2 separate regions of the Homo sapiens genome follow, and region 2 is linked to region 1. Evidence: fine-mapped expression QTL. Tissue or cell type: whole blood. Region 1 holds a variant in brackets; the other region holds the start of a gene. All regions are shown on one strand. Distances are between the middles of the regions.

Region 1 (8,421 bases):
TGTGACTATGACCCGTAATCTTCTTTTCACAGTATTAAGTGTGTCGTAGAGCCAGAGTCTGGTTGGCTGAGGGCCTGTTTCTCAAATCTGCGTGGTCATGTCAGAGGCATTTGAATCAGAGTGATGAGGGGCTGAGTAAAATGAGGCTGAGATCTGCTGGGCTGCGTCCCCAGCCTGTTAGGCATTCTAAGTCACAGGATGAGACAGGAGGTCACCACAAGATACAGGTCATAAAGACCTTACTGATAAAACAGGTTGCAGTAGAGAAGTGGCCAAAACCCACCAAACCCAAAATGGTGATGAGAGTGGCCTCTGGTCGACCTCACTGCTCATTATATGCTAATTATAATGCATTAGCATGCTAAGAGACACTCCCACCTGCGCCATGACAGTTTACAAATGCCAGGGCAATGTCAAGAAGTTATCCTACACGGTCTAAAAGGGGGAGGAACCCTCCGTTCCAGGAATTGCCCACCCCTTTCCCTCATGAATAATCCAGCCCTTGTTTAGCATATAATCAAGAAATAATCATAAAAATGGGCAACCGGCCCGGCGTGGTGACTCACGCCTGTAATCCCAGCACTTTGGGAGGCCGAGGCGGGTGGATCACGAGTCACGCCTGTCATCCCAGCACTTTGGGAGGCCGAGGCGGGTGGATCACGAGGTCAGGAGATCGAGACCATCCTGGCTAACATGTGAAACCTCATCTCTACTAAAAATACAAAAAATTAGCCGGGCATGGTGGCGGGCGCCTGTAGTCCCAGCTACTCGGGAGGCTGAGGCAGGAGAATGGCGTGAACCCGGGAGGCGGAGCTTGCAGTGAGCCGAGATTGTGCCACCGCACTCCAGCCTGGGCGACAGAGCCAGACTCCATCTCAAAGAAAAAAAAAAAAAAATGGGCAACCAGCAGCCCTCGGAGCTGCTCTGCCTATGGAGTAGCCATTCTTTACTCCTTTGTTTTCTTAACAAACTTGCTTTCACTTCACTCTATGGACTCCCCCTGAATTCTTTCTTGGGCGATATCCAAGAACCCTCTCTCGGCGTCTGGATCGAGACTTCTTTCTGATAACAGTCCTACTATCTGTGGAAGCCCTAGGGTCCTGAGGAACTTGTGAGGACAATCTGGCTTCCTGGGAAAACCCTCAGCCCCAGCCACTAACAGGGCAGGACATATGGGGAGGAAAGAGCCTTGATATCATCCCATATGTTGAAAAACAATTGCTATTCCAACTACAGTTGCTTCTGCCTTCTAAGGCAGGTGTCATGATTCATGTGATGTGAAGATCAAGTCCTTGCCTTCCCTTTGGCTTAAAAAGATTGCTGATGGAAAACTGAGAGAATTTGATTGAGTTGAGGCATAGGATAACCACCAAGTTTGTGCAGGTGCTTGCAGCCCTAAGGGGAGAGGTGCAGAATGGGTGGTCCCTTGCTAAGCAGAGGCTTTGGAAATGCCGCAGCAGGAGGTGGGAGAGTGGAATTGCTCTAGGAGGTGAGACAAGGAGCTGACATTGAGCCAGAGAGGGAGAGCCAAAACCTGGGGGAAGGCTGGGCTACAAAGAAAGGACAGAGCCAGGGAGAAATTTCCCACAGCAGTAATGGTGAAAAACACTTTTTTAAATGGGCGAATATCATGGATGCTCGTAGCAACATTTTCGTAATAGCCAAAAAGTGAAAACAGCACAAATGCTCATCAGCTGATGAAGGGATAAGCAAACATGGCATCTCCAAACAGTGGAACGAAGTGGTGTGATCCTGAGTGGGGTCTGTGAAGCACAGCAGGCTTGGCCAGCCACGGTAACCACGATGGGTCCATCGCTGGATGGGACCAGAAAGTGAATACGCCGAGGCATAGGGTTGTAGCAGAGAAAGAGGTTTCATCGTAGGGCCACCGAAGGAGGAAATGGGAGGAAACGTCAAATCCATCTCCCTGAGGAGTTTGGGGCTGGGGTTTTTAAGGGTTTGGGAGTGGAGACTGGAGTGTGGAGATGGTTGATTGGTCGAAGTGTGCAGGGTGGAGTCATGGGAGAGGGAGACGAAGCTGTATTTTCATGCTGATCACATTCCTCTGTGGGGGTCTTCAAACTGGTTGGTGTCGGCTGTTTTGCTGGAATTCAGGATCTGAAAAACATCTTAAGCAAGTCTTAAACAAAAATCTTATGATTCTAATGTCAGAGATCCCATCTATTTTAAACAAAAGCCTTGTGATTCTAAGGTCAGAAATTGTATCTATAGGAACAACGGGGATGCAAATGTTACCTAGTGCTACGTCACTGTTGGTTACAAGGAAGTGGGTCAAAGTGCAGGCTGACTGATGCTTACTTACAACTATATTTCTGTCCAGAATTCTTCTTAATCCTGTGAGGATGGCTCACCATATCGTGCTCAATCATGGTGCCAAAATGCCTGTCCTGGGGCTGGACACCTAGAATTCCCCTCCAGGCCAAGTGACGGAGTCTGTGAAGCTTGAGAACGTTGCCACTGTCAGCAAGCTGCGGTGCTCATACCATGAGAAGAGCCTGATAAAGGAGCCTGTCAGAAGACCCTCAGGGGACCACCTGGATTCCTACCTTATTCACTGGCCAACAGGCTATTTTTCCTGTTGGATGGGACAGACAACGTGGTACCTAGTGACACCAACTTCATGTCACATGGGTGGCCACATGGAGGAGCTGGTGGATGAAGGGCTCTGAAAGCTTTTGGAATCTCCAACTGCAGCCATCTCCAAGAGATGGTAAAGAAACCTGGCTTAAGACCAGGTGTGGTGTCTCAGCCTGTAATCCCAGCACTTTGGGAGGCCAAGGCGGGAGGATCACTTGAGCCCAGGAACTCGAGGCTGCAGTGAGTTATGATCATGCCACTACACTCCAGGCCTGAGTGATAGAGTGAGACCCTGTCTCTAAATATATATATATATATATGACAGACAGAAAAAAAGAAACCTGGCTTAAAAACAGTGGTTAACCACAGTGAGTGCCACCTGCACCCACCTCAGGAGAAGTTAATCCAGGGCTGCCAATCCAAAGGCAAGGTGGTGACTGCCTGTAGTCCCCTCAGCTCTCGTGACAGGTCTGGGGGATCCCAGCACCAAAGCAATCACAGCCAAGCACAGTAAAAAAAATAAACAAATAAAAACGCAGCCCAGGTTCTGATCTGGTTTCCCATGCATAGGAATTTGGTGGTAATTCCTATCATCATTTCGGTGGTGATGCTGGAACGCACTGCTGAAAACTTGGAGGACTTCGACTTTCAACTGAGCAGCCTGATGTGACCACTGTAGTCAGCTACAACAGGAACGGGAGGGTCTGTGTCTTGGTGAGCTGTGCCTCCTGCAAGGATTACCCCTTCAACACTGAGCTTTAAAGCTATAGGTACCTGCTCTTCCCCCAGTGCCTTGCACCTCTTTTTCCTGCCTCAGTTTTTCTAGCAAGTGTAGTATGGCCTGTGTCCCTTAACGGCGGGTCAGCAACCTGCAGACTGGCCAGCACGGGTGTGGTCAGGTTGATGCTGTGTCCAAAGAGCAGTTTGTGTAGACGAGACGTCTCTTCCAGTTTTCTTTGCCCTTTTTCTTGTCCGGCTGGGAGAAGTACATCCTGAATACCCTTTTCCAGCCAAAATGAAGCAAAACCTACGGTCCAAATAGTGCCACTTGGAGTTGCGTTTTGACTGCTGGAACTGTAATCCCTGTAGCCAGTCTCCTTGCCTCAAATAAAAAGTGAGGCTTTTTATTTGTGAGCTTAACAAAAAAGAATGAACTAAGGATATACATTACAACATGGATGAACCTCAAAAGCCTTACACTAAATGAAAGAAGCCAGACACAGAAGGCCACATATTGTATGATTGTGTTTATGTGAAATGCCCTGAAGAGGCAAATCCACAGACACACAGGAAGATTAGCGGTTGCCCGAGGATGACGGTGGGGGAAGGGGAACTGCTATTGGACATGGGGATTCTTTTTAAGATGATGGAAATGCTTTGTAAGTAGATAGGAGTGATAGTTGCACAGCACTGTGAAGATACTAGAATCCATTGAATTGCACACTTGAATGGGGTGAATGTTGGCTGGGCACAGTGGCTCACATCTGTAATCCTAACACTTTGGGAGGCTGAGGTGGCAGGATCGCTTGAACCCAGGAGTTTGAGACCAGCCTAAGCAACATAGCCAGACCCTGTCTCTACAAAAAATAAAAAAAAACATTAGCTGGGCGTGGTGGCATGCACCTGTGGTCCCAGCTACTCAGGAGGCTGAGGCGCGAGGACCCCTTGAGTCCAGGAGGTCGATGCTACAGTGAGCTGTGATCATGCCACCTGCATTCCAGCTGGGGTGACAGTGAAACCCTGTCTCCAGAAAAAAAGTGGGGAGGGGATGGTGAGTGTTGAGGTATGTGAATGACTATTATATAAGCTGTTGTTTGTAAATGGGCTAATATTAAAATTTAAACTGTGTGCTGTCACTTGCTACTAAGTCACTCTGCCTCGTTTCTTCACCCTTCGTTCAAGGTGTACCACATTCAACGCCATGCTTCTGGGTACTTCTAAGCAAATGTTTGGATGAATATGGAGAGAAGAGAACAGCTAGACAAAGCAAGATACAGAGAGGAGATCAAGAGTTAAGGAAGCAGCCGGGTGCGGTGGCTCATGCCTGTAATCCCAGAACTTT[G/A]GGAGGCTGAGGCGGGAGGATCACTTGAGGTCAGGAGTTCGAGACCAGGAGGTCACCAGACCATGGTGAAACCCCGTCTCTACTAAAAATACAGAAATTAGCCAGGCGTGGTGGTGTGTGCCTGTCATCCCAGCTGCTCAGGAGGCTGAGGCAGGAGAATCTCTTGAACCCGGGAGGTGGAGGTTGCAACGAGCCAAGATCACGCCACTGCACTTCAGCCTGGGCGACGGAGCGAAACTCCATCTAAAATAAAATAAAATAAAATAAGAAAAAAGAAAAGAAAAATAATTAAGAAAGCAAAAAAGTAGATGAAGAAGTAGCTAAGACAAGCCTAAGGCCTGTGAGGCTGCTGAGGGAATTTTCAGTAGAGGAGCCAGACGGAGGGGTTGATGCTTTGCCTCCTGCTGGAGGCACTGGGACTGCGGGAGATATTTGCTGACGCTGGACAGCCCTCGTTTTGGTTCAGATCCGTACCTCTCCCCCACGCAGCACATACACTTTAGGGAAGGCCAGCCCGGCCTTTGGTAGTAGAGGTGCAGCACTGTCTCAGGCCTAAGCTAGGCAGTGATGGTTCCAACAGGGACTTGGCTGATCAAGTCAGAATAAAGTTCAAGACTGTTTCATGGCTAGGGATAGAGGTATTGTTTCCTGGTGATCTGTCTCTGCAAGGGAAAGACCATGGGCTGTCTCTGCCATCTTGAGGATATGAGGAAGGGGGCTGCCTGAAAATGAAGCCAACCCAAAGAAACAGATGCAAGAATTGGATTCTGATCATGGCATCTGAGCCCTGGATCAAGCTGCATCTGAAGCTATGTCTGCTTTTGGACTCTTCCGTTACATATAAGCCAGTTAATTCCTTTTATGGGTTGAGCTTTCTGTTACTTGGAACAGCAACGATCACATCTATGGTCAAATGATAATTTTGTAAAATACAAAGACTGCAAATACACCTCCGTATTTCCCTATTATATCACTTATTTCTTTGTTACAGGTTTATAAAAAGGGGCATAAAACTTCCTGAAAATTCTGCCTACATAACATTTGTATGAGTTTCATAATTAATAAAAATATACAAAGGTTTCAAAACTAAAGAAACTTAAGAAAAATGTAGTTGACCAAATTAATTTTGAACTGTATTTGCCCTAAATATTTTAAAAGTAGAAGTCTATGCTTGACAAACCCAGATGAACCTGGCTTAACACCATTCCTGTCAACACCTCCACTGTCCGGTCTTTGTAAAAGGCCAGGTGTCATATTGTTTGAGGCTTTAGCGGCCTGCAAGGCAAAGTGGGCCAAACCTAACATTGCTTTTAACTGGTAATCTGCCCAAATTGCATTATTCCACGTTATTCATGTATCACCCCCGAGGTGCCTTCCCATTGAAGAAATTAGCTCAGAAGCTCTTCATTTAAGGTGCGAAGTGACAGGTGTCTCTGTATCTAAAATGGAAATTATAGCAATTGCTGAAAATGTTGCAATCACTGCTTGGGTATACAAGAGACACACCCAAAATAAAATGTTTGAAAAATGCTGAAAATAAAAGGATAAGCAAAAGTCTACCAGGCAAAAGAAAATGAGGAAAAGGCTGAAGTCTAGTTCTACATGAACCAGAACAGCCACTGCAATTTAAACTCGAATTTCTGTTCTGAACAGCATTTTTGTCAGGAAAAAAATACAAATAATAAACAAATAAATCAGAGTTTCTGAAAGATGGAAAACTGCTTCCATATTCTTGAGAAGGGAACTGGTTAAATAAAATATGGCACATTCACGCAATAGAATACTACACAGACATTGAGATCGATGAGGTGGGTATTTATACAATTAGGAACTGAGCGTATGGGACCTGTTGCTTAGTGAGAAAAGTGTGATGTGTAGAGATGCGTGAAGGGCGCATAAGGATGCTACCTGCCTGTTCACACAAGGATTCCCTGGAATCGGTGCACTCAGGGGAGAGGGATCCGAGTGGTTTTGGGACACATTTATAAAAAAAAATTAGTTTTTACTCTATGAGCCTTCATACCTTTTGAATTTTGTACCACATATATTTTATTCATTCAAAAAAATAAATTAGGTCAGTTTCTTTTTTTACATCTTTCAGATTATGGTCATCCATCTTATTTTAACTAAATGGCCAACAGCCTCTATCTGATGCCCCAGCATTATCCACTGGGTTCAGTTCCTTGCTCTTTTATTTATTTACTTATTTACTTATTTTTTATTTTTTTTTGAGACGGGGTCTCGCTCTGTTGCCCAGGCTGGAGTGCAGTTGCATGATCTAGGCTCACTGCAAGCTCCACCTCCTGGGTTCACGCCATTCTCCTGCCTCAGCCTCCCGAGTAGCTGGGACTACAGGCACCTGCCACCACGTGTGGCTAATTCGTTCTATTTTTAGTAGAGACGGGGCTTCACCATGTTAGCCAGGATGGTCTTGATCTCCTGACCTTGTGATCCGCATGCCTCGGCCTCCCAAAGTGTTGGGATTACAGGCGTGAGCCACCGTGCCCAGCCTCCTTTTTTTTTTTAGACAGGGTCTTGCTCTGTTGCCCAGGCTGGAGCACAGTGGCGTGATCATGGCTCACTTCAGCCTCCTGCCTTAGCCTCCCATGTAGCTGGGACTACAGGCATGCATCACCATGCCCAGTTACTTTTAAATTTTTTTTGTAGAGACAGGGCCTCGCTTTGTTGCCGAGACTGGTCTCCAACTCCTGGCCTCCTGCCTCGGCCTCCCAAAATGCTGAGATTACAGGCATGAGCCACTGTGCCAGGCTCAGTTCTTTACCCTTAATGGTTACTTTTAGTATGAAAAAAAAAAAAACTCTCCAATTTCTTGTATATTGCTCTTTGATGAAAGAATTTGGGGTTAACCAACCCTTAATGTTGCATTTCACTTCATATTCGCACTTCATTATTATTTTGACCACTAGAAGTGAGAAATTATTTTACTGAAAATCATGAATATGCCTTGGTCAAGAGTTCACACTCTTTTTTTCTGTTTAATTAGAAGTACTTGCTTGAATAAACTGTAAACTTACCCATGATTTCCACTTGTGTTATTAATGGTTCTAGCAAACTGGAATTTTCCCACCCTCGCATAACAGCCAGAGGCATGGGTTGGGCTCCGCCAGCATCTCATACCACCAGCAACCAGACAATGCCCAATTCCCTACAGCCTTGGCCCTGCCCCATCATCAAGAATGAGTCAATCCCTCCCCTCTCCCTAGCTGAGGAGCTCATCAGCTGTCCCATGCAAGTAAAGTTCTCTCCTTATATAATGTCTTCTGGAAATCAAAGCATTTCATCAACTGTTGTTATCATTATTTTTTTCTTTTCTTTTCTTTTCTTTTCTTTTCTTTTCTTTTCTTTTTTTGAGATGGCGTTTTGCTCTTGTTGCCCAGGCTGGAGTGCAGTGGTGCGATCTTGGCTTACCACAACCTCCGCCTCCTGGGGCTCAAGCGATTCTCCTGCCTCAGCCTCCTGAGTAGCTGGGATTACAGGCATGCACCACCACGCCAGGCTAATTTTGTATTTTTAGTAGAGACGGGGTTTCTCCCTGTTGGTCAGGCTGATCTCGTACTCCCGACCTTAGGCAGTCTGCCTGCCTCAGCCTCCCAAAGTGCTGGGATTACAGGCGTGAGCCACTGCGCCCGGCTTACTGTCATTGTTTTACAGCACGTAGTATCTTCCCGATAAAGGTTTCTCACTCGTTTTTAAAATGCTCCACAAGGTGACACATGGTGTTCTCCCAGTTCTCCGAAGAA
Region 2 (6,670 bases), 150 kb after region 1:
ATATTATTATATTAGTATATTGCCAAAATTATTATATTAGTATATTGGCAAAATCAGCCTTCAAGTCAATGTATATACCCTTATTTAAATTAATAAATCATTCAGGTTTGCACATCAGTCTTTTATGAGTTTAGTTGAGTGAATCCTCAAAACTTAATCAATTCTGATTAATTGGTTAGACGTAATTTCTGAAAATTCAAAATACAGTAGCTGACAATCAAATATAGTAATAGACTATTTCCATAAAAAGATCTTACCACCAAAATGAGTCTCTACTTAGTTTATCCTCTAACAAAATGCCTTTATTTCATAATACCCTTCACAAACTGCAATTAGTTAATCCATAAAACTGTTAACAATAAATGAGATACAGCACATGAGTGCTTCTCGAACTTTGTTTTTTGTTTTTGTTTTTTTTTTTTTTTGAGACGGAGTCTTACTCTGTCGCCAGGCTGGAGTGCAGTGGTGTGATCTTGGCTCACTGCAGCCTCCGCCTCCCCGGTTCAAGCAATTCTCCTGTCTCAGCCTCCTGAGTAGCTGGGACTACAGGGCGTGCCACCACGCCCAGCTAATTTTTGTATTTTTAGTAGAGACGGGGTTCACCATGTTGGCCAGGATGGTCTCGATCTCTTGACCTCGTGATCCGCCCGCCTCAGCCTCCCAAAGTGCTGGGATTGCAGGCGTGAGCCACCGCGCCCGGCCTTCTCGAAAGTTAATGTACATACAAATCACCTACAAACATGTTAAAATGAAGACTGATTCATTATTAGGTCGGTGGCAGCCAGTGATGTCCAGGCTGCTGTCCACGGACTACAAGGATACACACCTAGCACAGTGGTTGGCACCCAGACTACTCAGCCCAGTTAACTATTTCCTCCCATTTGTAAATTTCTCATCTCCCTTACTCATCTCACCTTCCTTGGAAGCAAAGACAATGTCTTTCATTTTCGTATCTTTCAAAGTTCTAAGTAGAATGCCTTATCTACATAATGGCATTGAATATATGTATTCTGAATGAATGGCATCCAGCTTTTAACAGTCATTACTTCTATGAGTTATCGACAAAATTGTTTCTCTGAATTTACTTTAAATGGAAAAAAATTGTTCAAAAGCTGAAAAATCAGGAAAGCTCTCAGTTTTTAAAAAACGAGAAATACTGTATTTGTACCATACTCCAGTGCGTTTTTTCTCATGCTGACCTAACCAAGTCTTTTTTAAGAAAATAAATATCCATAATTACCTTGCTAGTTTATCTCCTAATGGCTTTTTTTTTTTTTTTTTTGGTAAAGAACAAAAATAAGCCATCCATTTTTCTGGGAAAGTTTTAAAATTATCCTTTTCTTTGTATGTAAGGGCATCTTCGTAAAGCTAATACCTACAAAATAATCCTGGCTTCTCAGATTAATATTACATAAAAATCACGGTATCCTTGTTATCAATAGAGAGATCGTTGGCAGTTTCATGTGTTTCTTCGCCGATTTTCTGTGATCACCGGAACAAGTGACTAAATATCTCAGGGTTCGTTTCTTCCCTTGTAAATATTAGCTGTTAACCTGACCACACTTGGTTCTATGCTGAGAAAAATGGTTTGAGAGGGTGTTTTGAGCACTCCAGAAAGAAAACAAAGGACGAATATTATTTTCACTTCCTACTTGTTTACCTTTACTGTTTCATGGCTTTTTGGATATTTTTGGGTGACTGCCAACTATCAAACACAATTATTTTTTAGTACCTAAGGGCATGGTAACAAAGGATCGGGTTTTAATCATACCATGAACTGAAAACAACATGAACGGTCTTGCAAATAAACGTAATCACTTTTTGGCTTCTCCGCACAGACAACACATCGATGCCTCCGAACTGGCGACCTTAAGCCTCGAAGCGCAGTCCCGCCTCTGCAGGCGGCCACCGCGCGGGGCTGGGTGGTCCCCTGGGAGAGGCCCGGCCGGCGCACAGCGGTTCCAAGATCTCAACCAGGTTTTGGTTTTTCGTCGTTATTAAAATTGCTGTTTGGGTGTGTGTCTTTTTTTTTTTTTAAGACAAGACACTAGGCCAATTGCGCGGCGCTAGCCGGCGGCGGGGCAGGCATTTCGGAGGACCGGGAAGCTCGGAGGCAGCGGCTGTGACCTCCAGACCGTCCTCCTGCGTCCTCATTAAGGAGGCAAAATGGTGGCCGCGAACGCCATCAGGCTGCGCCAGCGCGGGGTTTCGGCGCAAACAGAGGATCCCGTCAGATTCAGGCGGCCAGAACTCCTCCTCACCCAGGCCACCCCCCGGGGCCCACAGCCTGGACAGCTACGGGCGTGGCGCCTGCGGCACCGAGACCCCAGGCGAGAGTGTGGAGGCGGCGGCGGCTTCCCCGCGACCGTGAACAACGACGCCATTATCAGCACCCCCTGCCGGCGCCTCCGGCGCAGCCCGCGCAGGATGCAAGGCCCGGCCTCCGAGGGAGGGGGAAGGAGGACGGGGCGGGAGGAGGGGAAGAGGGTGAAGAGGGCGGGAGGAGAAAGAAGAAGGCGGGAGGAGGGGAGAGAGAAGAGGGAGGGAAGAGGGGAGAGAGGCGGGGCGGGGCGGGGGAGAGAGGCGGGGCGGGGCGGGGCGGAGCGGCGGGCCGGGCGGGCTACGGGGACGGGGGCAGGGCGACTGCTGCTGCCGGGTGGCCCCCTCCTCAGGCCGCCCTTTCCCTGCGGGTGGGAACTCCAGATGGACGAGGGCCCACCCCACCCGGCGCTTCCCCGTGCAGCCCGGGGTCGCGGCGGGCGGCGAGGGCAGCGGCTCCCCGGCTCCCCTACCTTACCTTCCCTGTCCTTCTCGTCCGCCATCTTGCTGCGGAGCCGGTCGCCTGGGAGATGCCTAACGATAACCTCGGCCGCGGTGTCCCGGCCTGCTCAGCGCCCCGCGGCGAGCCTGGCCTGGAGGAGGGGCCGCTCTGAATCCCGGGGGAGGAAGACCCTTGGGCGGGGCGGGGCGGGGAGGAGGCTCCGAGCGCGCGCCCTGTCCCCGTTTCGCGCCACGACCCTCGCGCTGGGGGAAGACCAGAGGCCCCGTCTGCCACCCGGCCCCCGGCCTTGTCCCTCCAGACCCGAGGCCGGAGCCGGACTTGTCCCGGGCCTAGCATGTTGCTTCATCACACGGTCCCCAACCCCTCCTTTCCCTTATTTCTCATCCATTTGGGGACAGCACGCGCGCGCACACACCCCTCGCCCCCTCCTGTCCTGTTTGTGCGACGTGGCGTTGCTCGATTTTTGTTGTTAACTGCAGATTTTGAAAAGCGCCGGAGAGCTAGGTGAAGAGCTGGGCTCCCAAGGGGGTGATAGAACCAGCCCGCGGCCCGGCCTCCTCCTCCCGCTTCCCATTCGCAGCCCGCCTCCCGCCGGGAAGCGGCCCGGCTGCTGCAGAACGGCCGCGCCTGCCCTCCCGGTTTCTCCCGTCCAGTCTTCACCGTCCTTTCCCAGAGAAAGCGACAGCACAGCCTATGACAACCGAAGCTAAAACGGAAAAACTGGGCCGGGCGCAAGAGGAAACCAGAGCCATTCGACTATTGCTAGAGGAGAGGAATAGCTGCAGGAAAACATGCGCAAAATAGCACAAACATTGCGTCGTCAAGGCTGCAATGTCTAATACAAAATAGAAGGTTCTCATAGCAACAAAAACGTGCCCATGTTGTGCTCAGTATTACATGCGTTAAAATGTTCTTAGTTGTGAAATTTGACATGACCGCTAGTTAAAGTTACAATGGAAGTTTTAAATCCCGCTTTCCGAAAACTTTGCAGCTATAGCATGAAGTTAAATTTTTGTCTTATTTTCTGGATAAGTTTACTATACTGGAACATAGTAAAGCTCTTTTTATAAAGAGCTTTGAATAAAATACCTAATGATGTGGTTGAAACGAACACCTATTTTCAAAACTAATCTTAAGTGGTATTTCAGTGCATATGTTATGTAAAAGCAATTTATAAACTAAATTTTAAGAGCCTTCAAAATACAAGGTACTCGTATTTAATGACTTAACAGTTTTAATGCTTTTATTGTTTCTATAATCTCTCAGGAAATCCTAAAACTGACTATATTTTTCTTTATTAAAATAACTTTTTCTGTAGAAGATACCCATTTGGCGCTGTGATCAGCATTCTACTTGAAATTGAATATAAACAACTGAATCATTACAAAATGGCTCATGTTAGAAGATACTTAAAACGAATACAATCTTGTACAGTAAATGTTTAACACCCCAAAATAACGAAAAGTAATTATTAGCATTCATTTATATCTAAATCTCAGTCAATATGATCTAAATATTTGTGTTTAAAGACTCCCCCTTTCCATATAGATAATGAAGGGCTTTGAAATAAGTGTAGGAAACCCTAAGTTTGGTCTCAGGCTTCCTATTCATTCACTATGCTTTTTCGTGTGCTGTTTACAGTTTCCTTTTTCTGGAATGCCTTTCCCTGCTTTTTTCCCCCGCCAACATTTCAGCTTCCCACAGACACACATTTGTGCCCTCCTGGTTGTCCTGCAGGATGACCTTTGTTTTTGTTTTTGTCTTTTGTTTTTCGAGACAGGGTCTCGCTCTGTCGTCCAGGATGGAGTGCAGTGGTGTGATCTCTGCTCACTGCAACTTCCGCCTCCCGGTCTCAAGTGACCCTCCCACCGCAACCTCCCAAGTAGCTGGGAGGAGCGGCGCGCGCCACCATGTCTGGCTAGTTTTTGTATTTTTTGTAGAGACAGAGTTTCCCCATGTTGCCCAGGCTGCTCTCAAACTCCTGAGCTCAAGCGATCTGCCGCCTGCCTGGCCCTCCCAAAGTTCTGGGATTACAGGTGTGAGCCACTGTGCCTGGCCAGGATGACCTTTTTGAAGTCACCTAGTCATTGAAGCTTTCCCTCTCAGCCTTTTCCTCTGTGGCCCCATGCTTATAGAGCCTCCCACATTGATTTGCAGTGCCTTCGTTCGTTCACTTTATTTCCACCTACCAAACAGTAAGATCTTGAAGACAGAAACGGCATTATTCGTTTATATATCCCCGGTATCTAGTACAATTTTTCTGTTTGCAATAATAAATGTCTTAAAACTTAAGAAAGGAGTAAGTCTTCTCAATGACTTTTTTTAAAAAAGACCCAGATTCAGCACTTATTGTATGTAAGACAGACCTTCCTTTTACATTACATTTTTCATCAGTAAAAGTACTGGGCCAGGCGCGGTGGCTCACGCATAATCTCAGCACTTTGGGAGGCTGAAGCGGGTGGATCACTTCAGGTCATGAGTTAAAGACCCACCTGGCCAACATGGTAAAACCCCATCTCTACTAAAAATAGAAAAATTAGCCGAATGTGGTGGCTCACGCCTGTAATCCCAGCTACTCGGGAGGCTGAGACAGAAGAATCGCTTGAACCCAGGAGGCAGAGGTTGCAGTGAGCCGAGATCCGCCACTGCACTCCAGCCCAGATGACAGAGCAAGACTCCATCCCCAAAAAAAGGTACTAGTATTTCATGTTAATAAAATGGAATTCTTATATAAACATATATAAATTAAAAATTATTTTAAGAGTTGAACAGATTTCTCTGCAAATCCCCCTATATTTTTATATTTTTTAAACTAACTGTATTCAGCAAAGCTTTTTATTATTTAATTTATTCCAAACCACATTAATCAGTATTTCTCTGAACTCCTACAGCACATTTAAAACAGTACTGTTTCTCTAGGTGTGGGTGAGTAAAAAAATATTTAATATATGTTAATTAACTTCCGCATCTCCTGACCCCACTAAGGTTTGAATAGGAGCCTCCCCCTTTATAAACCCTTTTTATATACCCACACTACCTAGCCTAATTGGGGCACATATTAGCTGCTTCATACATACTTTTCAACTGCCTAATTTGCTGATTAGGCATAAAAGTATATAATTCTGGAAAAGTCTCCACAAGGTGAAAATGATTATCCAAATAATAAAGGCCCACAATGCCAGTGAGTACATTATCTGCATTATGCTGATATTTGACTCCTTTCAACTCTCTTTGGTTGTAGAAACATGACCGATGATTATATTACACTTTTAACTCTTTAAATATTATTAGCTTGCTTTGGACTGTGGAAAACTAACTACAATCATTTTTATTCCTCAGAATATATTTTGCGGCCGGGCACGGTGGCTCATGCCTGTATACCCAGCACTTTGGGAGGCCGAGGTGGGCAGATCACGAGGCCAGGAGTTCGAGACCAACCTGGCCAATATGGTGTAACCCCGTCTCTACTAAAAGTACAAACATTAGGTGGGCATAGTGCTGCAAGCCTGTAGTCCTAGCTACTCAGGAGGCTGAGGCAGAAGAATCACTTGAACCCAGGAGGCAGAGGTTGCAGTGAGCCAAGATCATGGCATTGCACTCCAGCCTGGGTGACAGAGCAAGACTCCATCTTAAAAAATATATATATATATATAGATAGATAGATAGATAGATGTATATATACATATACGTATACATATACGTATATGTATACGTATACATATATGTAGAGTATATATACATCTACGTATATGTATACTCTACATATATGTGTATATATACATATATACTCTACATATATACACATATATATGTATATGGCTTCTGAGCTATAGCTTGAGTAACTTGTTAACTTGTAATACTTGAGTAACTTGTAATATTGTATGCTGC

Evidence for each region. PIP is the estimated chance that this variant, and not a neighbour inherited with it, causes the effect.
Region 2: it holds the start of DRC8, and the variant in region 1 is fine-mapped to the expression of DRC8 in whole blood (TOPMed, PIP above 0.99).

What each region holds. Positions count from the first base shown.
Region 1 is chr1:245,118,402-245,126,822 of GRCh38, reverse strand. It overlaps a transcript of DRC8 not described here. Among named protein-coding and RNA genes, the nearest start is that of KIF26B, 32 kb to the left of the region's middle. The variant G/A (reference allele first, on the strand shown) is at 4,661.
Region 2 is chr1:244,966,571-244,973,240 of GRCh38, reverse strand. DRC8 (dynein regulatory complex subunit 8) reads right to left here and starts at 3,559. Exons shown (of 8, transcript NM_032328.4): 1 at 3,198-3,559; 2 at 2,798-2,912. The coding sequence starts at 2,822. LOC124900416 reads left to right here and starts at 2,671. Exons shown (of 4, transcript XM_054328428.1): 1 at 2,671-2,915; 2 at 2,917-2,986; 3 at 2,989-6,268. The coding sequence starts at 2,704. The coding sequence ends at 3,255. EFCAB2-AS1 (EFCAB2 antisense RNA 1) reads left to right here and starts at 2,372. Exons shown (of 2, transcript NR_111907.1): 1 at 2,372-2,429; 2 at 3,262-6,670. RefSeq lists enhancers at 1,897-2,266, 4,705-5,209 and silencers at 2,437-2,526, 2,537-2,896, 2,907-3,086, 3,357-3,496.